Homo sapiens: one gene and its partners. The protein of the gene in region 1 interacts with the protein of each later gene in a biochemical or structural test. Each region holds a gene or a part of one and is shown in the gene's direction. Other genes may lie near its edges.

What was found.
Region 2: the proteins of DAB1 (region 1) and LRP1 form a complex in vitro, tested with the Homo sapiens proteins (2 studies listed by BioGRID).
Region 3: the proteins of DAB1 (region 1) and LRP2 form a complex in vitro, tested with the Homo sapiens proteins (2 studies listed by BioGRID).

What each region holds. Positions count from the first base shown.
Region 1 is NC_000001.11:57,421,061-57,428,032, reverse strand, and holds the start of DAB1 (disabled homolog 1), read left to right. Parts: upstream 1-3,972; 5' UTR 3,973-4,103; intron 4,104-4,920; exon of another isoform or gene 4,921-5,016; intron 5,017-6,972. UniProt on the Homo sapiens protein: Signaling adapter of the reelin-mediated signaling pathway, which regulates the migration and differentiation of postmitotic neurons during brain development.
Region 2 is NC_000012.12:57,208,177-57,214,373, forward strand, and holds the end of LRP1 (prolow-density lipoprotein receptor-related protein 1 preproprotein), read left to right. Parts: coding exon 1-40; intron 41-534; coding exon 535-641; intron 642-906; coding exon 907-1,023; intron 1,024-1,515; coding exon 1,516-1,692; intron 1,693-1,852; coding exon 1,853-1,993; intron 1,994-2,130; coding exon 2,131-2,304; intron 2,305-2,541; coding exon 2,542-2,703; intron 2,704-2,999; coding exon 3,000-3,174; intron 3,175-3,310; coding exon 3,311-3,412; intron 3,413-3,573; coding exon 3,574-3,638; intron 3,639-3,750; coding exon 3,751-3,841; intron 3,842-3,940; coding exon 3,941-4,085; intron 4,086-4,238; coding exon 4,239-4,379; 3' UTR 4,380-5,185; downstream 5,186-6,197. UniProt on the Homo sapiens protein: Endocytic receptor involved in endocytosis and in phagocytosis of apoptotic cells. Required for early embryonic development. Involved in cellular lipid homeostasis.
Region 3 is NC_000002.12:169,205,023-169,212,840, reverse strand, and holds part of LRP2 (low-density lipoprotein receptor-related protein 2 precursor), read left to right. Parts: intron 1-633; coding exon 634-873; intron 874-3,199; coding exon 3,200-3,388; intron 3,389-5,590; coding exon 5,591-6,511; intron 6,512-6,652; coding exon 6,653-6,818; intron 6,819-7,203; coding exon 7,204-7,362; intron 7,363-7,818. UniProt on the Homo sapiens protein: Multiligand endocytic receptor. Acts together with CUBN to mediate endocytosis of high-density lipoproteins. Mediates receptor-mediated uptake of polybasic drugs such as aprotinin, aminoglycosides and polymyxin B.

The sequences.
Region 1 (6,972 bases):
CCACGCCCGGCTAAGTTTTGCATTTTTAGTAGAGACGGGGTTTCACCATGTTGGTCAGGCTGGTCTCAAACTCCTGACCTCAGGTGTTCCACCTGTCCCGGCCTCCCAAAGTGCTGAGATTACAGGTGTGAGCCACCATGCCCTGCCCTAAGAGCGTAGATCTTAACTGTTCTTATCACATGCACAAAATTAGTAACTATGTGAAGGTATGGATATGCTAATTAGCTTAATTGTTCTAATTATTTTACAATGTATATGTATATCAAAACATCATCTTGTACATCTTAAATATATACAATATTGAGGCATTATTTGTCAATTATACTTCAATAAAGCTACAGAAAAAGTAAAATGCCCATAGTTTACAGCATAAAATTTTATTACTCTCTGGCTAATTGAAACAATTGTAGGAATAAACAGAATTAAATAAAATATAATACACAAAATGGGCTTCTTTGCTTCCCTTTCTTTGGAGGAGTAGTAATAGCTAGTAGGACTTACGATTTCTGACATTTGATTTTGATTTCCATGATAGGTCAACCAGCACTTACATAGGCTGCTCCTTTGAGTATCTTGAAAATCATGTGCATAGTTATAAATTATGTAAAGTTCAATAAAACTCCATTTTGCTCATGTGCAGGCTGCTCATGCCTGTGTCTTTTATTAGGTTGACTCCAAGATCCTCAAAGGTAGAATATGTTTCTGATTTATCACCATTATTCCCAATGCCTACCACAGTGCCTGATATACAGAATGGACTCCATAAATGCCTGTCAAATTTAAATGAACTATTTTAGAATTATTCTGGGAAGAGAATCAATGTTTACCAGGTGACTGATTTATTCAGTGCCAGGCATGTCCAATATATTAGGCCGGGCGTGGTGGCTCACGCCTGTAATCCCAGCACTTTGGGAGGCCGAGGCGGGTGGATCATGAGGTCAGGAGATCGAGACCATCCTGGCTAACACAGTGAAACCCCGTCTCTACTAAAAATACAAAAAATTAGCCGGGAGCGGTGGCGGGCTCCTGTAGTCCCAGCTACTTGAGAGGCTGAGGCAGGAGAATGGCGTGAACCCAGGAGGCGGAGCTTGCAGTGAGCCGAGATCGCGCCACTGCACTCCAGCCTGGGCGACAGAGCCAGACGCTGTCTCAAAAAAATATATATATATATATTATCTCATTTAAGGCTCACTGCGATCTCAAGAAGCAAGTGTTATCCACCACCATTGTAGGGTTGAGAATTTTGACGTAGACAGAAGTAACTTGTTAAAGATGAATGAAGCTCATTAAATTCCAAACTCTATACTCTATCCAGTACAATAAGAGTGCCTTCCCCAATGGGCTGCTGTGAAGGTCAAATGAGTTAATATATGGAAAGCATCAGAACTGTGTCTGAAACATAATAAACAATATATACATCTTTGCTGTTCTTATTTTACTGTTTCTCGGGGTAGATGATAAAGAAACGTTCACTGAGATTTTTTTCTTATGCCACACTTAATACAAATGACATTGTTATTTTAAAAGGAACAAAAGAAAAAAACCCCTAATTATTAGGTGACTTATTTCATGACATGTTTAGTACAACAACTTAAAATGTTCCTTTAAGATTTGGTTTAGTTTAACTTGAAAGATCATTGGTGGGTATCTACATGTTATGCCCGGATTTGAGAAAAGCTTTGCTTGTTACCCCTGTTGAATTTCAGGGAAATTTGCCCAGTTTCCGTGGTGGACTTGATTCAACACAGAGCAGAGATAGAGTCTTGTATTTCCATTACTTGGCCAAGTCAGTGTCATTAATTCTCTTCAAAGTCTGTAATCATAATGTCAATAGAAAGCCGAACGAAGTGAAAGGTGGGTGAAGGCGGCAGGTTTTATAAGTAGGGCCTTAAGATGCATGTAGATGGTCTTCATGTTCTAAGCCTATCCTCAAAGCATTGAGAAACTTCAATGTTTTTGGCAGTCAATGAGAATTTAGACCTGTGCCTCCATCATAACAGTTTTTTACCCTCCCTTCCCCTGTTTCGACCATGTCTTCTCAGATTTGTCCCTCTTTCCTCAGTATTGAGTTTAGACTCTTGAGATGTGTCTTCATAGATGAAGAAACTGAAGTTAATCTTAATTGAGTTGCCTGGTAAGCCTGAACTTCCTACACAGTGTAGAAGCATATCTGGTGTCAATTGTCCCCACTTTCTAGAACTTTGGAAAACTTGTAGAGACTTAGGCTAGTTTCTCTGCTCCCCACTCGTAGATTATCTGTCACACCTGGAAGTAGGTAGAAACCGAGTAGTATCAGGGATAGGACCTCCCTCCCACCTTTTTGGAAATTTCATCTGATCAACTCTTCTTGCAAGATTGCATCCTGCTATGACCTTACAAATTGTTCTTGTCTCTATGTAAATTGCTATCTTTTCAGGTGATGCATGACAGCCTCCGTTTGCTCAGGTCTCCATTTGTACGGAAGCTGTTATTATGGAATAAGTTTAATGGGTCGTGAATTTTGTGGAGAAAGGGAGGGTCTCTTGATGACTTTGTATGTACCAGCCCTGGACCTACTGGCTCCACAAGGAGTGCATTAGGCTAAATATTTTTAGCCCATTGACTCTGGAGGTAACAACCCTAAATGCTTCATTAAATTTTCATGGGTGAGTGTCAGAAGCTACGAGAAAAAAAAACACCCCAAAACAGAAAAGCACAAATCCATCACATTATCTTTGTTATTATACAGCTGGAAGACAGGAGTGTAGCCCCAAAAAGAGTAACGGTAAACTTTTTAAGGAAGGGTTGCCTGCCTCTTGCTTTCCTTTTCTGCACCTGGGTCCAACAGGGTGGTTTGTGTGCTGTGCGAATCTACATATTATGCACTTGATTTGATTCACCAGGCTCCTCTCTTCTCCTGCATTTCAGGCCTCTGGAGACAGGTATGCCACACAACAGGAATTTTCTGGAGTTGAATCTAGTCTCAAGGTGGAAGAATTTTCAGAATGACCCAATATTTTCTGCGACTTGGTGTTTCTAGGATCTTTGTGAGCTAGGACCCTAAGCAAGGAGCAACTGACTGTGTACTCGCTGGAGCCGCCTCCCGCACAGCTTCGAATCGGAGGATTGTTTACTCCCAGTCATTCTAAGAGCCGAGTAGGGGAGTCGCGGGGAGTAAGCCGGAGTTAACCGTGGTCTGCGTGCTCTCAGGGGCACGGGTCTCTCCTGAGGACTGACGGAAACTTGACACGTGCCAGCCTTCTCCCTCCCAACTTGCCGAACTTTGCCTGGGAAACCTCAGTCAAAACAGGAGCCGCCGAACCTGCACTGGCGGCTGGGAGCGAGCGCCCCCTCCTGCCAAGGGGCGTGGGGGCAACATGCCCTCGCGGAGACTCCCCTCGTGGTTTCGCCCTTCCTGGCACTCCATATATTTGGGTATGCATATGTTTTCGAGGCTTGGATAAAAGGGTAGATCTTAGAGAAAAATGAGAGAGGCCAGGCGGAGCTGCGTCCAGTGGTGGTGATGGGGGAGAAAACACTGGATACTTTGTGACAACCCCCCTCCCTTACCCTCTCCACGCTGGCGCGGCTGGGGCGGGGACCCCTCGCTCTCGGCTCGTCTCTCCCCCTTCCACGCTGGGATGGAGAGAGAGTGCAGGGGCTCCAGAGGCGCGACTGCAAGCCGCGGCGCCCCCGCTCGCTCGCTCGCTCGCTCGCTCGTTCTTCCACCTCCTCGTCGCCACCGCCACTCGGCTAAGCTCTCGGAGCGCGCTCCGGCTGCGCAGAGAGCGCCCCGGAGGGAGCCGCGAGGCCGGGGCGAGGGGCTCACGGCCCGGCGGCGGCGGCCGGGGAGCTAGCAGGTGAGCGGTGCCGCGGGGCGCCGGGCGGGCGCGGGGGGCGGCGGGGCGGGGGGCCGCGGGAGGAGGCGGGTCCGCGCGGGTGGCGGTCTCCTCCCCCTACTCTGACGCGGGGCCGGTGGCTCCCGGGGAGGATGGACCCAGCTCGGCGCTCGCCCGGGCTTCCCCGGGCTGCAGAGCGCGCCTGAGTGCCGCCGCCCGCCGGGCATGGGGAGCCGCTTCCTGGGCGGCTGCGGCAGCGGAGGAGGATGCTCTGGGCTAGGCGAGGTGAGGCGCGGCGGGGGCGCGCGGCAACCCTTGAGTTCAGCGCCGCAGGTGCCCCGCGAGGACAGGGCGCCGGGGAGCCAGGAGGCTTCGCTGGAGCCCCGGGGCGCGGAGGAGGGCTCCTGGGACGCGCCACTCAGCAGTTTGGCTAGGGGTGCTGGGAGGATGGCGACTGCAGCAGTTTTTCGCCTTCTCCCTCCACTTGCTGGGAGGAAAAGGGCGACTTCTCTTTCTCTGTCCTGCCCCCCATCCCCGCGCCCCTGTCTCCCTACTTCCGACCACGCGCGATCCTGTCTCCAGACTTGTCCACCCCTGACACGCGTCTCTCTCCAAGACCCCCTGCGCCCTCTTTCCTCCTGCGGTCCTGGCTATATCGGACCTCGAGCCTGCCTTCTCCCGCTGTCCTGGGCTCCCGAAACTCCCTCCCTCCCTCGCTGGTGGCCAGACCCTTTTCCTCATTCGGCCGAACCCCGTTCTCACTTCCCTACTCCTCCGTAGCGCTGAGATTCGGCTTCGACCTCTCGAAAAACCGACTCTATCCCAGTAATCCCAGCCCTTTCGCGGGCACCGTGAGAACTGGATCCCGCGTTCCTCGGACCCCGGCCTTTCTTCGGATCCTCTGTGGACTCTGTTCTCTGCCGCTCGTCCCCCTCCATCCACTCCCCAGCACCCCCTCCCCCCACGCCCAGCTAGTCGCCTCCCCAGCCCGCCCCTCTTCCTTCTCTCTGCTCCAGACTCGACGCTCTGACTTGGATGCAGAGAGCTCAGTTTTTTTTTCTACCAAGGAAACTTTAAATCTCTGTGGTTCGGCTCATAAAGCAGGCACACAAGAGGGTGTCAACCGCCGAGAGAACCCAGAGGCAGGGAGTCCGAGATGGGGGGAGGTCGTGTCGCGGCGTCTGAAAGGGGCCACTGGGTGAGTGTACAAAGTAAATTTCAAAACCAGGGTGGCTGCTGCAGCCAGGACCCTGCCTCCGCTGGCTGCGTCCCGAGGAGTATTATTGTGACCCCTGGTGGGAGGGCGCATCTTTTCTCTGCACTTTTTAAGGCGCTTTTTCTTTTCTCTGTTTTTGTTTTTTGGTGGTGCTGGTGGGCCTGATGGGGGGCAGTGGGCACAAGGGATCGCTGCCTGGAGAGGCGGACGCCACTTGGCTGCTCCCAGACCCGCCAGACTGTGTACGTTTCACTCCGTGTGAACTACCCCCAACCCCCAACTGCATCGCACAAATCCTCATTGTTGGGGGTCTGCTGGGGCACTTCCGCTTAGGCTGGGAGAGTCTGAAGGAATGGCGTGGGGGTGGGGAGGCCGGGGGCGCTTGGCTACCGCTCCGCTCTTGGCGGCGGGCGGAGTGGAGAGCGCCGCGACGCGGGCATCTGTGCGCTCCGGTGTGTATGTGTCGCCGAGTCTGGGGTGCGCGCCCGCGTGGGTCGGTGTCTGCGTGTGCGTTTGGATGTCGGCGCACGCCTGTGTTTAGCTCCATTAGAAAGAGGGGCGATGTAGGGCTTGCGGTAGCGAGAGCGCCTTTCTCCGCCTGGGAGCTGGACGGGGGCGAGCCCGGGGGCGAGCCCTCCTGCGAGCTGGATGCTCCAGTGCAGCTCCTAGCCAGCCGGCGGGGACCGGGGCGAGAATCCGCGCCGTCGTTTCTTCCTCCTTCCTGCTCCCTTCCTGCTGGCCGGTTAAATACACTTTAACAGTGTTGATAGTTTTGAATAAAGGCTGTGTGGGGGTTCCACTACACTTTACAACACTTAACGTTTTCAAGTAATCATATCAATTAAATTAAAGGTGGCTTACGTTCAGAACCGCCTAATTATCCAGTTCACGTTGGTACATTTATGTGCCAATTATAGGTCTTTGGGAAATCCATAAAATTACAAACCATCCCCACCCCTTGAATTAGCACCCATTGTTTTTGTGATCTCCGTGATGAGTGATTCTGGATGGCACCGGAACTGCGCAGGCACTAAGATAGATGGGGGTTCGGAGATGTCAGAAGGAGTAGGCACCCCCCCCCGCCACCCCCCCCCCCGCCACCCCCCATCTCTTTCACTCCCTATCCTGACAAGGCTTGGTGACAATTCTGGGAACTGAAAGTGATCAAAGATTTTCTTGATTTCCTATTGAGAAGGGCACCTAATCAAAGCTGTATAAAAGTCAACTTCTAAGCAATCAGAAATTGTCTGCTGATGTCCTTGATTGAAACCCCAGCATTCAAATGGAATATTGAAGAACTCGCAGAAATGTCTTTTGAAGCGCTATTGTTCTTTTCCATACACAAAGGCTCTCTTAAAGGTTTAGGAAGTTCAAAATGCAGTGGTTTGAAAGGACTGACTTTGTAACTATTTGGCAACGCTGGGAGGATCCGCAGGGATGAGAAAAGAGGCCGAAGTGGGAAGTGCAAATATGTTGTGACCATCTTCTTGGGAACGGTGCTGCTATCAAGTAGGAATTCAATTCTACACATCGAGTTGGCAATTAAATCTCTTCCTAAAGCAGATTTAGAAGATGATTTTTAGTAGTTTTTATTTTTTAATGGTTTGCTTGAGGTCTGAATAGGCATATCTGAAACATTTAATCATGTTCATTGTATTCAACGATAAAATCTGAATAAAAATTACTTATTGTTGATGAAGCTCATCTCACAAGCTGTTTCACAGTATGTTTCATTTGCAAGACACACCATTGTGTGAGGCTGCCGGGAAGAGATTGTATCACTTATTGTTCATTTTCTCCTCCCAACCCAGAGAGGAATATTCTTCTTCATTCCCCTTTGCCCTCCAAAGTAATTTTTCTTAAATGGGTGAGTGTTTGGCTTGGTACCTGATAGTACCCATCTAAAAAATTGCATTTGGTAGATTTAGGATGCTTGGA
Region 2 (6,197 bases), on another chromosome or scaffold:
TTGACGAGCCCCACGCCATTGTGGTGGACCCACTGAGGGGGTGGGCAAGGGCCCTGGGGGGAGGCCTCTGGGCTGGTGGTAGGAAGCCCCCGGGACAGGGTTGGGGGCTGCACCCACATGCGTGCCCTTCCCTCCCAGGCCAGCCTGAGGACAGAGTCCTTTTCAGTCCCTTGGGTCTTCTCGGCCACCCCTGCCTGGCCCTCCCCATGCTGCCTCTGCCCAGGGCCCCCAGCTGGGCCTGCTTGGGCAGGGATCTGACCTCTGCTTGGCCGGCTGTCATGCACAGCCACACTCTGCCCTGGGGAACAGCTCTGCCAGCGTCGGTGGCTCTGAATGAGCACACTGTGGTTTTAGAGGAAAAGCCCCTCAACCTGCTCAGAAGCAGACTCCCGCCTGCTTCTCTGTAGAAGGACAGAATGCCCTCCTCCCAGTCCCCAGCAGTCCCTGTCCCCAGACCAAGAAGCTGGTGTCCTGCCTGGGCCTGCCTCCTCTGGCCCTCCGGCCTGCCCACACTCACCCCTTCTCCCTCCCCAGGACCATGTACTGGTCAGACTGGGGCAACCACCCCAAGATTGAGACGGCAGCGATGGATGGGACGCTTCGGGAGACACTGGTGCAGGACAACATTCAGTGGCCCACAGGTTTGTGGGGCAGGGTGCAGGAGGGACGGGCATGGAGGGGGCCCGGCTCGCAGAGCCCAGCTGCTGCTGAAGTCACACAAAAGCAAGGGATGGGATGGGGCTTGGACTGGGGCAGGGCAGATTGGCCGTGGAGGCTTTTCCCGAAAGAGGTGACTGTGAGTGGCGTATGAACAGGGTGGAGCTGTCCCGGGCATGGAGGCAGTTCTTTCCACCCCGAGCCTGGGTTGGGGAGGCCAAGCTCTCACAGTGCTCTCTCTCTCCCCAGGCCTGGCCGTGGATTATCACAATGAGCGGCTGTACTGGGCAGACGCCAAGCTTTCAGTCATCGGCAGCATCCGGCTCAATGGCACGGACCCCATTGTGGCTGCTGACAGCAAACGAGGTCAGAGCCCGGCATAAGTCGCAGTCCCCAGCCCTGTCCCCAGCCTTGCCATCCTCCCTACTGAGCCAAAGGCCTCACTTCAATGCCTCCCATCCTTTGTCACTGACCCCCAGCAATGCTGCAGCGCCTTCCAGGCCTCTCCAGCTGGCCTCCCCCTGAACCAGCCCTGCAGGCCTGAGACCCACCCTGACCCTCTGGCCTACTTGTCCATTCATTGGTTGGGTTGCACGGAGGCAGCATAGGTACATTAGGAACGTAGCAAATTGGGGGAGAAGGAATAGAAGTCAGTCATGACTGACCCCAGAAGTCTGGGGGTGATGGGACCTTTTGCCAGTAGTGGCCACAGGAGGAGGAACCGGTGTGGGGAGAGAGAATTTGGTCTGGATGTGTTGAGTTTGAGGTGTCTGGGAACCACAGGTGCCAGTGTCGTGGACAGCATGGCCAGGGCCTGAGTGCCCCTCAGGTCCCCTCTGACTCCACCTCCTCCCCCAGGCCTAAGTCACCCCTTCAGCATCGACGTCTTTGAGGATTACATCTATGGTGTCACCTACATCAATAATCGTGTCTTCAAGATCCATAAGTTTGGCCACAGCCCCTTGGTCAACCTGACAGGGGGCCTGAGCCACGCCTCTGACGTGGTCCTTTACCATCAGCACAAGCAGCCCGAAGGTGGGGGCAGAGGGGAGCCTGGGCTGGGGAAGGGAGGCCTGTGGGCATTGAGTCTCCAAGCTGTGGCCCTGGGACCTGGTGGAGAGGGGGTCACCCTGGGCTCACAGGGCTCAGAGAAGGGTCCTGCTCAGCATCCTCCCCACCCCACCCATACCTGCAGTGACCAACCCATGTGACCGCAAGAAATGCGAGTGGCTCTGCCTGCTGAGCCCCAGTGGGCCTGTCTGCACCTGTCCCAATGGGAAGCGGCTGGACAACGGCACATGCGTGCCTGTGCCCTCTCCAACGCCCCCCCCAGATGGTATGCTTATGCCCTCCCAGTCCCAGCCATGCCTCAGGACCATCTCCTTCCTGTGGCTCCTGACTTCCCCTGACCTTGTTGCCTGTCCCTCTCCTCCTATTCCCCTGGCTCTGCCCCTTGACGGGCCCTTCCTGCAGCTCCCCGGCCTGGAACCTGTAACCTGCAGTGCTTCAACGGTGGCAGCTGTTTCCTCAATGCACGGAGGCAGCCCAAGTGCCGCTGCCAACCCCGCTACACGGGTGACAAGTGTGAACTGGACCAGTGCTGGGAGCACTGTCGCAATGGGGGCACCTGTGCTGCCTCCCCCTCTGGTATGCCCCCTCATCCCGCCACGCCTGCTCCTTGCCCCTGGGCCCCAGCCCCGCCACCCACCACCCCACCTCAGGCAAATGCCCAGCCCCTGCCTCGCCTCCAGCCTCCTTTCCACAACCCAGCATCCAGTCACTCCAGTCTCTGCTTCTCGCCCAGGTCCCCCCAGCCCATTCCTCTGCTATAGGGCCAGGTGGTCTCGAGGGCCACAGTCGCGCTCACACATCCTCTCCCACCAGGCATGCCCACGTGCCGGTGCCCCACGGGCTTCACGGGCCCCAAATGCACCCAGCAGGTGTGTGCGGGCTACTGTGCCAACAACAGCACCTGCACTGTCAACCAGGGCAACCAGCCCCAGTGCCGATGCCTACCCGGCTTCCTGGGCGACCGCTGCCAGTACCGTGAGTGAGCCATCCCTGGGCCCCAGGGCATGCGGGAGGGTGACGGGGGACCCCAGAGCATGGGGTGATGTTCAACCTGTGCCTGGGACCCACAGGGGCAAGTTCAGGAAAGAAGGCCTTATGCAGCTGAGCCAGGCCCAAGCTGCTGGCGCTTCCCCACAAAGGTGCTGGCACACTTCCCCTGAGGCAGTGCACCCCCTGCACCAAGATTATGCAAACAGAAAAGCTCTGTTCAACCTATGGAGAGCCCTCATGAGGGTGGGGCTTGAGGCACTTCTCTCCCTCCCCAACCACAGGGCAGTGCTCTGGCTACTGTGAGAACTTTGGCACATGCCAGATGGCTGCTGATGGCTCCCGACAATGCCGCTGCACTGCCTACTTTGAGGGATCGAGGTGTGAGGTGAACAAGTGCAGCCGCTGTCTCGAAGGGGCCTGTGTGGTCAACAAGCAGAGTGGGGATGTCACCTGCAAGTGAGTGGGGCCCTCCTCCACAGTTCCACCCAGCTGGGCCCCTGCCCTGTCCTAGCCCTGCCCTGCCCCTCCCTTCCTCAGCATCCCAGGCACGCCTCTGCCAGCCCCAGCCCCAGCCTCTGATTCCTTCCTGCAGCTGCACGGATGGCCGGGTGGCCCCCAGCTGTCTGACCTGCGTCGGCCACTGCAGCAATGGCGGCTCCTGTACCATGAACAGCAAAATGATGCCTGAGTGCCAGTGAGTTGGGCCCGGGCTTCACCCAGGCATAGATCATCGCTCCCTTCCCCAGATTTGAGCAGGAGGACCGTCAGGCCTCAGTGCCCACCCCCCGCCCTGTTTTCCTGGCAGCAGTGGCTATGGAGGTTATACCTACTCAGCCGTGTCCCTCCTTTCTGCAGGTGCCCACCCCACATGACAGGGCCCCGGTGTGAGGAGCACGTCTTCAGCCAGCAGCAGCCAGGACGTAGGTGGCAGGGGTTGGGGCAGGCAGGGCCACCGGGACCTAGAGCAGGGGGACCGTGTGCCTCCTGCTTCCCTGAGCCTTGGTGACTCAGTGTCCCACCTCTTCCCTCCAGATATAGCCTCCATCCTAATCCCTCTGCTGTTGCTGCTGCTGCTGGTTCTGGTGGCCGGAGTGGTATTCTGGTATAAGCGGCGAGTCCAAGGGTGAGTCACAGGGATTCTGGAACATTCTGGTCATTATTTTGCCATCCTAGCCTTCCCCCCCAATAATCTCTGTCTCCTTATACTCCTGCCTTTCCCCAGGGCTAAGGGCTTCCAGCACCAACGGATGACCAACGGGGCCATGAACGTGGAGATTGGAAACCCCACCTACAAGATGTACGAAGGCGGAGAGCCTGATGATGTGGGAGGCCTACTGGACGCTGACTTTGCCCTGGACCCTGACAAGGTGGGCTGGGAGGCGGGCAGGGTCGAGTGCCAAGAGGCCGTGGGTGGCCTAACCAAAGGTGTTGGGTTAGGTGAGGGACGGAGGTGGGGGTGGGGTAACCTGGGCTACAGGCCCAGCTCCTGAGCCCTACCTGAACCCTCTGTCACCCTGCAGCCCACCAACTTCACCAACCCCGTGTATGCCACACTCTACATGGGGGGCCATGGCAGTCGCCACTCCCTGGCCAGCACGGACGAGAAGCGAGAACTCCTGGGCCGGGGCCCTGAGGACGAGATAGGGGACCCCTTGGCATAGGGCCCTGCCCCGTCGGACTGCCCCCAGAAAGCCTCCTGCCCCCTGCCAGTGAAGTCCTTCAGTGAGCCCCTCCCCAGCCAGCCCTTCCCTGGCCCCGCCGGATGTATAAATGTAAAAATGAAGGAATTACATTTTATATGTGAGCGAGCAAGCCGGCAAGCGAGCACAGTATTATTTCTCCATCCCCTCCCTGCCTGCTCCTTGGCACCCCCATGCTGCCTTCAGGGAGACAGGCAGGGAGGGCTTGGGGCTGCACCTCCTACCCTCCCACCAGAACGCACCCCACTGGGAGAGCTGGTGGTGCAGCCTTCCCCTCCCTGTATAAGACACTTTGCCAAGGCTCTCCCCTCTCGCCCCATCCCTGCTTGCCCGCTCCCACAGCTTCCTGAGGGCTAATTCTGGGAAGGGAGAGTTCTTTGCTGCCCCTGTCTGGAAGACGTGGCTCTGGGTGAGGTAGGCGGGAAAGGATGGAGTGTTTTAGTTCTTGGGGGAGGCCACCCCAAACCCCAGCCCCAACTCCAGGGGCACCTATGAGATGGCCATGCTCAACCCCCCTCCCAGACAGGCCCTCCCTGTCTCCAGGGCCCCCACCGAGGTTCCCAGGGCTGGAGACTTCCTCTGGTAAACATTCCTCCAGCCTCCCCTCCCCTGGGGACGCCAAGGAGGTGGGCCACACCCAGGAAGGGAAAGCGGGCAGCCCCGTTTTGGGGACGTGAACGTTTTAATAATTTTTGCTGAATTCCTTTACAACTAAATAACACAGATATTGTTATAAATAAAATTGTAAAAAAAAAAAAAAAAAAAAAGGCCAAAAAAAAAAAAAAGAAAGAAAAAAAGCCGCTGGTGTCTGCCTGTGTGTGAGAGACGCTGGGAGCTGGGGCTGCGCTTTCCTGCTTCGGCCACCAGAGGGAGACCTGCCCCGTGCTGGAGGCAGGCTGGCGCGTGGTTTTTAGTGCCCTTCTCCCAGGGCCCTCCCCCTCTCCATCTTACTGTGCCCGGGAAGCGGGTGGCACTGGACTTGACATGGAAGATCTGCTTCTCCTGGCTGTGTGACCTTCAGCCATGACTTCGAGTCTCCAGATTTTGTGTTCCCTCTGGGTCTAGGACACTAACTCAGATCTGTTTCTCTGCATTCACTTCTACCAGACACCACCCCCCTACCCAAAATGATCACCCACAGTGAGAAGCCCCACTATAAGAAGTGAATACACTGAGGCTGCAAAGGTTTTCTCATCCTTCAGGGTCCTCCCATGCGGTTCTCTCTGCCTGAGTCTGCTCTTGAAGCACTGACGTCTCACTTTGTGGAGACTAATGAATCAAATGCGAAGTAAAATGCTGCATTCCAGAGCCAGGTGTCTCCTGCGGTAAAGGAGAGCTGGGAAGACCAGTTTGCCAGGCCCTCTAGGCCCCCAGCAGCTCCAGCTCACCAATCATTTCAGTCATTCCAGGGGGTAACAGGAAAAAACTGTCAATCAAAAGTGTCCAGGTCCATTTCAACCCCTGCCTAGAGGGGGAAACTTCTTGCAGAAAGTTGCACAGTTTACACTGCCCAGGACTAGAGAGGGTTTGAGTCCCAGTACAGCAAATATGAGCTCAGGAAGGGTGGCTGCAAATGTCTGAAGATCCCTTACCCAACTCCCAACCAGGAAGTGCTGCCTTTCATTCCTCCTCCCTCACTGGTTCAACTCCAGGAGATTCCTCCCAGGCTTCCTTCTGCCTTGGGGAAGCTACAAGTCTAGGCACCTGTGGAAAGAGGAGCCCTCCCCTTCCCTTCTTAGCCTTCAGAAGCTCTCTCCAACCTCATCCTCCAAGCCAACT
Region 3 (7,818 bases), on another chromosome or scaffold:
ACCCATCACCTGAGCAATATACACTGCACCCTATTTGTAGTCTTTTATCCCTCGCCCCCCTCCCACCCTTCCCCCAAGTCCCCAAAGTCCATTGTATCATTCTTAGGCCTTTGTGTCCTCATAGCTTAGCTCCCACATACCAGTGAGAACATGCGATGTTTGGTTTTCCATTCCTGAGTTACTTCACTTTGAATAATAGTCTCCAGTTTCTTCCAAGTCACTGGGAATGCCATTAATTCCAGGACTATTCTTTAAATCTTATTTCATATATTTAAAAAAAATCACATTATTGATCATGTAACTGAACATATTATTTTAAGTGCCAGTTCATAGGCAAATTATGAGCAGATTTATATACTGACCTCCCTAATCCTCGCATGATTTGTAGAAGAAAACAAGTGAAGCCCCATTCTCTAACTATTATACAATAGTTGGGTTACTGGTTTCATACCTTTAGGTGTTATTGTATAAGCTCTAGTCTCTCCGATGTTGTTTTTAGATTGCTAACTCAGCTACTATATGTTGGTTATTAATTTTTAGAATAAATTATTTGGTGACCCAATTAAAGAAATTTGAGATGGGGTGGCGAGTAGCTAGGATCAAAAGTTACAAATGGATTTTGTTTTCATTTAGATGCCGCCGAATCCTCAAATGGCTGTAGCAACAACATGAATGCCTGTCAGCAGATTTGCCTGCCTGTACCAGGAGGATTGTTTTCCTGCGCCTGTGCCACTGGATTTAAACTCAATCCTGATAATCGGTCCTGCTCTCCATATAACTCTTTCATTGTTGTTTCAATGCTGTCTGCAATCAGAGGCTTTAGCTTGGAATTGTCAGATCATTCAGAAACCATGGTGCCGGTGGCAGGCCAAGGTATGCCAACTCCAATATAAGTAAGATTTGACTTCATCTGGCACCAGGTTGAAATCCCTGGTGCCATGAAAACATTTCTTCATGTGTGGATTCAGTGCATAATGAAGCTTTCCTTTCCCTTTAAATCAACTGGCACAGCCTAAAGTGTTTTTCAAACTTTAGTGTGTCTCAGAATCACCTGGAGGGCTCACGCCAACACAGCTCCAGACCTCGTCCCCAGATTTTTCTGATTTTGTAGTCTAGGGTAGGGCCAGAGAATCTGCACTCCTAATAAGCTCCCAGGGCATGCTGACGGTGCTGGCCCATGGATCACGCTAAGAACCACAGGCCCAGAGCAATATAGAATGTAGGATGGGTTTGCAAGAAGTACTACAGAGTTGGTGTTCCAAAGAACTGTGCCCTATTTCTGATTATTAATGGAGATTTATGGTAGAAGGTATACTACTATTTAATATGGTAATGAAATAGTCCACAAATATGATTTATTAATATATATTTGGTGAATTGAAGCAAAAGAGTTCACAGTGTCAGTCCCTCTTTAGTAATCATATTTTTGCAGCACTTTGTGCTTACATACTGTGAATGTATGAAACGATCACTTGCTTCCTAGATGAGCCAAGGTTTTTAGGTATACCTTAGCACAAGAGGAACTAAGAGTTTTCTAACATCGCTAGGAGAATGTCACAGGCTAAAGAGAGAAATAGAGGGTAGAAAGGAAGGAAAAAAGGATGAAGTCAATGAAGGGGTTGTAGAGATGGTCAGAAAATACAGAAATGCACCTGGAGAAGGGAATCAGAGAGCTTCCAGTCCCACACGTCCTCCTGCCTGATGGTCATGTTCACGTGGACCCATGACTCATCTTTGTTTTTCCATATCTAAAAAGTTATGGATCTAAGTTATCATCTTGTACAGATATGACAAATTCAATAGTTTTTTTCTCCCAGCTTTTCATTAAAAAAATGTTCAAACACAGAAACGTTGAAAGATTTAGGAAATATCCTTATACCCTTTACCAAGATTTAACAGTTGTTAACATTTCTTCACATTTGAGCTCTCAATTTGTATGTGTGTGTGTGTACATGCATATGCATTCACATTCATTTTTTATGAACCTTTTAAAAATAAATTTTAATACCATGCCACTTTACCCCTACATATGTTAGCATACAGTTTCAAAGGGCATTATGAAATATTCATAATCATATTTCTCCAGTTGGCCTCACAATATTTTATATATAGCTGTTTTGTTCCATCCAAGATCTAATCAAGATTCATGCACTGCACTGGGAATATCTCATTAGTTTCTTCCAGTTTGGAGTAGTTGCCTCTAGCTTTTTGCTATGACATTGATGTTTTAAAGAGGCAGACCTGTTGTCTTTGAGAATCCCACACTGAGGATTTGTCTGAATATTTAGTCTGTCTTTCATTTTTTACCCTGCAGTTCTCATGAAATGGAAGTTAGGTCTAATTGCTTGATTAGATCAAGGTTAAATACATTTAGCAATAATACTTTATAGGTTATGCTGTGTTAGTTGATACAGAATCTTATTAGGAAGAACATAATGTCAGCTTGCCCTGCTCTTAGTGGCATTTGAGTTTGATCACTTGGTTAAGGTGGTCACTGCTACACTGCTGCTTTTTAAAGCTGTATTTTTTTTCCTTCTTAATTTTGGTGGAATCTATGCAATCACACTTAGGCCCTGTGAATGTCTTGGCTCCCAAGCACCTTTTACCCATTGGTTTTGGCAGCCATGGATGATCCTTGTTTGAAATGATTATTTAATCGAGGATTGCAAAATGGTGATTTTCTTATTTTAGCATTCCCTTTACATTTGTTAGATAATATTCTTCTATAAAGGAAAGCTCTTCGTGTCTCCCCGGTTTACTTTTTAAATAATTTATTATTATTATGGGCTCAAATTTTTATTTTTTAAATTCAGTGTGTTACAGTCAATTACTGTAATCCTTCTTTTGATGTTTTAGTGGATCCATTTTGGCCAGGGAGAACCTCTTCAAGTGGCGACCTGTATATTTCTGTGTATGCCTTGTTTCTTGGTACAATAAGATGTTTCACACTCACTTCGTACCTTCCCTGCCTAAACCTATAATCAACATTTCTCCCGGGAGCCAGAGCTCCTTATTGTGGGAAAGAGTAGAAACCAAGATGTGGGTCTGCTCACTGCAACTGGGAAAAAAGGGTTTCATTTTGTAATGGGGAGATGCTCAGAGCAGGGGGTTGGGAATGAGGGTTTGAGAGGAAGGGCAGACATTTAAAAGTTCTAATTTCAGTGACAGCATTTTTTAATGATCTTTTCTTAACTTCCAGGACGAAACGCACTGCATGTGGATGTGGATGTGTCCTCTGGCTTTATTTATTGGTGTGATTTTAGCAGCTCAGTGGCATCTGATAATGCGATCCGTAGAATTAAACCAGATGGATCTTCTCTGATGAACATTGTGACACATGGAATAGGAGAAAATGGAGTCCGGGGTATTGCAGTGGATTGGGTAGCAGGTATGTAAGCTATATGGTGATTTTAATATGTTTGCATCTCTGTCATCTTATTTTATGCTAGAAAGTTTAGCCTAACTCCATGTGCTACAGGTTTGTTTTTCTAGACAATTATTAAGACCATTTAAGATACATTGAATCTAGATTAAGCTACGTGTCTATTTGATAAATGATACGGTGTTTCAGTTTACAGATTTATAACAAATTAATCCTTATCATTTTCTTCTGTTATTAACATAATCTGGAGACAAAAGTGGCTAAAATATTAAATTATGTGGATTTGTTTTTTTTACACTTAGATTTGCACCTGATTTCTGCATTAGAAATTTTCTAAATTTTCAAGAGAAAGAGATATAAAAATATAAACTATGGAACAGCATTCATTTGCTTTGAAGCTGAGCAATTTTAGTTGCCAAATTCTTAATTGCTTCCTTTTATTCATATATAAAAATCCCTTAGATCATGAGATATTTTATTAGTAATTTTTTTAAATGCCTGGTCCAGTATTATATTAACTTAGTTGTATTTATTCATGCACATAAGCTTGAATAACCCCTCATTTTTATCACTCATCTGAGTAAAAATACCACTCATAATTAGTGGTATTATATGTTTTGGAATATAATCCAATTCTACATAAAATCAGTATCATTGAATCAAGCTTGGTGAGTAGGCATCACTTAGAAATATTAGCATGTAGGCAGGGCGCAGTGGCTCATGCCTGTAATCCCAGCACTTTAGGAGGCTGAGGCAGGCGGATCACCTGAGGTCAAGAGTTTGAGACCAGCCTGACCAACATGGTGAAACCCCATCTCTACTAAAAACACAAAAATTAACCAGGCATGGTGGCGTACGCCTGTAATCCCAGCTACTCAGGAGCCTGAGGCAGGAGAATCTCTTGAAGCCGGGAGGTGGAGGTTGCAGTGGGCCGAGATTAAGCCACTGCCATCAAGCCTGGGTGACAGACTGAGACTCTGTCTCGAATTAAAAAAAAATTTAAAAAAAGGAAATATAAGCATGTATTATGAAAATCTAAGTACTATAATAAGAGTTTATTGCAAAAAGTAAATATGGAAGTATGGTTAAATAAAGCTTTAATTGGGTTCCTAACTCCCGTTCCTGAATAGAAATTACTATTTCTGAGGGTATAGATAAAGCAGTAGTCAGCAAACTATGGCCCGTGCGTCAAATGCAGCCTGTTGCCTGTTTTTGTAAATAAAGTTTTATTGTAACACAGCTATGCCCATTTATTTGTGTATTGTCTATGGCTGCTTTCATGTTACAGTGGCAGTGTTGAGTACTTGTGAAACCATATGCTCTGCAAAGCCTAAAATATTTATTATGTGGCCCTTTACAGAAAAAGTTTGCCAACCCTGGATTAAAGGATTGGAAATGAGCAAATGCATACATAGCAAGTAGAGTTAGGTAATGAAAAAATGTATCAGTAACATATTTCACATTGGCCTGATTTCTCTAGAGGTGGTTTGAATCAGATATAGGAACAAAATATGTGTGTCTTGGTAGTAGCATTGATAGTTCAACAACAGACTTTCAACTACATGAAATCAATAATTTGTGGTCATTCTCTACTTATTATACTATCTTCATAAAGTTATCTTTTTATTCTAGCATGTACATAAGGCCCAAAGGGAAATGGACTTTTGGTCACTTTTAGAAGGTCCATGGGATGAAAACACCTACATTAGTTAGAAAGACTAAGGAAAAACTTCATGTTAACCTTAAGTTCAAAGACCATTTGATAACATTAATAACAACCTGAGATGCTGCTGGTGCTCCCTCTTTGCTACTTTTATCACATTGGGATGGAAGTTGTGCTATGAAAATGTATATTTAGAGTGTTTCAAGTAGGTATTAAGCATTTAGAGCTTCAGATAGAAAAGGAGGGACATTCTGGAAAATATACCTTTCAGTAGAAAGTGGGTTATGATGTTGCTATGAATTCTAATCTACTTTAGAAGCTGAAGATAGGCACTTTCTCTCTAAATTTGAAGACACAATCTCTATAATTCCTAGGAGTAAGAACTTATTTTTCTAAGCCTAGACTGGGACACTATCATCTTGGAAAAGACAACATATAGTGACCCAGACTTCAACCTTATATATTTTGTTCTGAATTTGTAAAGTTCTCCCTTTTTTTCTTCTTGGTTCTCCATTGATCAGCATGCACTTTCATTTTTCCCATAGGAAATCTTTATTTCACCAATGCCTTTGTTTCTGAAACACTGATAGAAGTTCTGCGGATCAATACTACTTACCGCCGTGTTCTTCTTAAAGTCACAGTGGACATGCCTAGGCATATTGTTGTAGATCCCAAGAACAGATACCTCTTCTGGGCTGACTATGGGCAGAGACCAAAGATTGAGCGTTCTTTCCTTGACTGTACCAATCGAACAGTGCTTGTGTCAGAGGGCATTGTCACACCACGGGGCTTGGCAGTGGACCGAAGTGATGGCTACGTTTATTGGGTTGATGATTCTTTAGATATAATTGCAAGGATTCGTATCAATGGAGAGAACTCTGAAGTGATTCGTTATGGCAGTCGTTACCCAACTCCTTATGGCATCACTGTTTTTGAAAATTCTATCATATGGGTAGATAGGAATTTGAAAAAGATCTTCCAAGCCAGCAAGGAACCAGAGAACACAGAGCCACCCACAGTGATAAGAGACAATATCAACTGGCTAAGAGATGTGACCATCTTTGACAAGCAAGTCCAGCCCCGGTCACCAGCAGAGGTCAACAACAACCCTTGCTTGGAAAACAATGGTGGGTGCTCTCATCTCTGCTTTGCTCTGCCTGGATTGCACACCCCAAAATGTGACTGTGCCTTTGGGACCCTGCAAAGTGATGGCAAGAATTGTGCCATTTCAACAGAAAATTTCCTCATCTTTGCCTTGTCTAATTCCTTGAGAAGCTTACACTTGGACCCTGAAAACCATAGCCCACCTTTCCAAACAATAAATGTGGAAAGAACTGTCATGTCTCTAGACTATGACAGTGTAAGTGATAGAATCTACTTCACACAAAATTTAGCCTCTGGAGTTGGACAGATTTCCTATGCCACCCTGTCTTCAGGGATCCATACTCCAACTGTCATTGCTTCAGGTAAGTGCACTCCAGGTGCTGCTTGTCCTGCAAGTAGACACAATGGGGTCAACACACATGGATGACTGAGTGTTTCTAATGCATATGAGACTCTAATGTCTTTGTGTGTGCTTGTGTGTGTGTCTGCCTGTATGTGTCCAGGTATAGGGACTGCTGATGGCATTGCCTTTGACTGGATTACTAGAAGAATTTATTACAGTGACTACCTCAACCAGATGATTAATTCCATGGCTGAAGATGGGTCTAACCGCACTGTGATAGCCCGCGTTCCAAAACCAAGAGCAATTGTGTTAGATCCCTGCCAAGGGTATGCCATCATCTTCCTTGTTATATTTCTGTCTGCTTATTTCTGGAAAAAATGGGGCCTGAAATTATGTTCATAGATAGCCAATGTGTTATGGGCTTATAAAACTATGGCTACAGATTCAAAAATGAAAGCATATTGAGTGATTTTACGTGGGAAGGAGGGTGCAGCGCATAGCTCCCTTTGATGGCAGAAAGGTTGGCAACATACTAGGAAGTCAACACCCTGACTTACTAGATCTCCTTTGGACAAGTTGTGTAAGTAGAAATGAAGTTTCTTTTGCCATGTTACTGGCAATTTGCAATTAAAGAATATTGTCCTTTTTTTTTTTTTTAAAGGACTATGAGGTTCCCTGTGAATTAATTATTGACTCCTTTTGTATGACTAGGTACCTGTACTGGGCTGACTGGGATACACATGCCAAAATCGAGAGAGCCACATTGGGAGGAAACTTCCGCGTACCCATTGTGAACAGCAGTCTGGTCATGCCCAGTGGGCTGACTCTGGACTATGAAGAGGACCTTCTCTACTGGGTGGATGCTAGTCTGTAGGTGTCTCTGGTTACTCATGTGGGTGTTAAGAAGAGGTTTTTCTTCCATTTCCAAAGAAGAGGGATTTGCATCATGTGATGAAAATATAGCATGCCAGATAGACATTGCCAGAATATAGAATCACAGTTTTAGGAACTATGTTTATATTGGAACTTGGTGAACATACTGTGAAAATTTATCTATATCATGCATTGAATAATTATGAACTAAAAGACATCTAAAGATGCATTGCTAAATATATCTATAATTTCAGCTATAATTATAAATGTATTTTCTCAATTTAGAATTACAAATGAAATTACTCAACTTACATTCTGCAGGCCCTAGGTAACTGCTATAAAATCTGAATGACTTTTAAATGCCAATTGATATTATGTTTTTTTCTGGGCTTTAGCATTCAATGTCTTTTAGAAAATTCTTTTCTTAAAAAAAAAAAAAGAAAATTCTTTTCT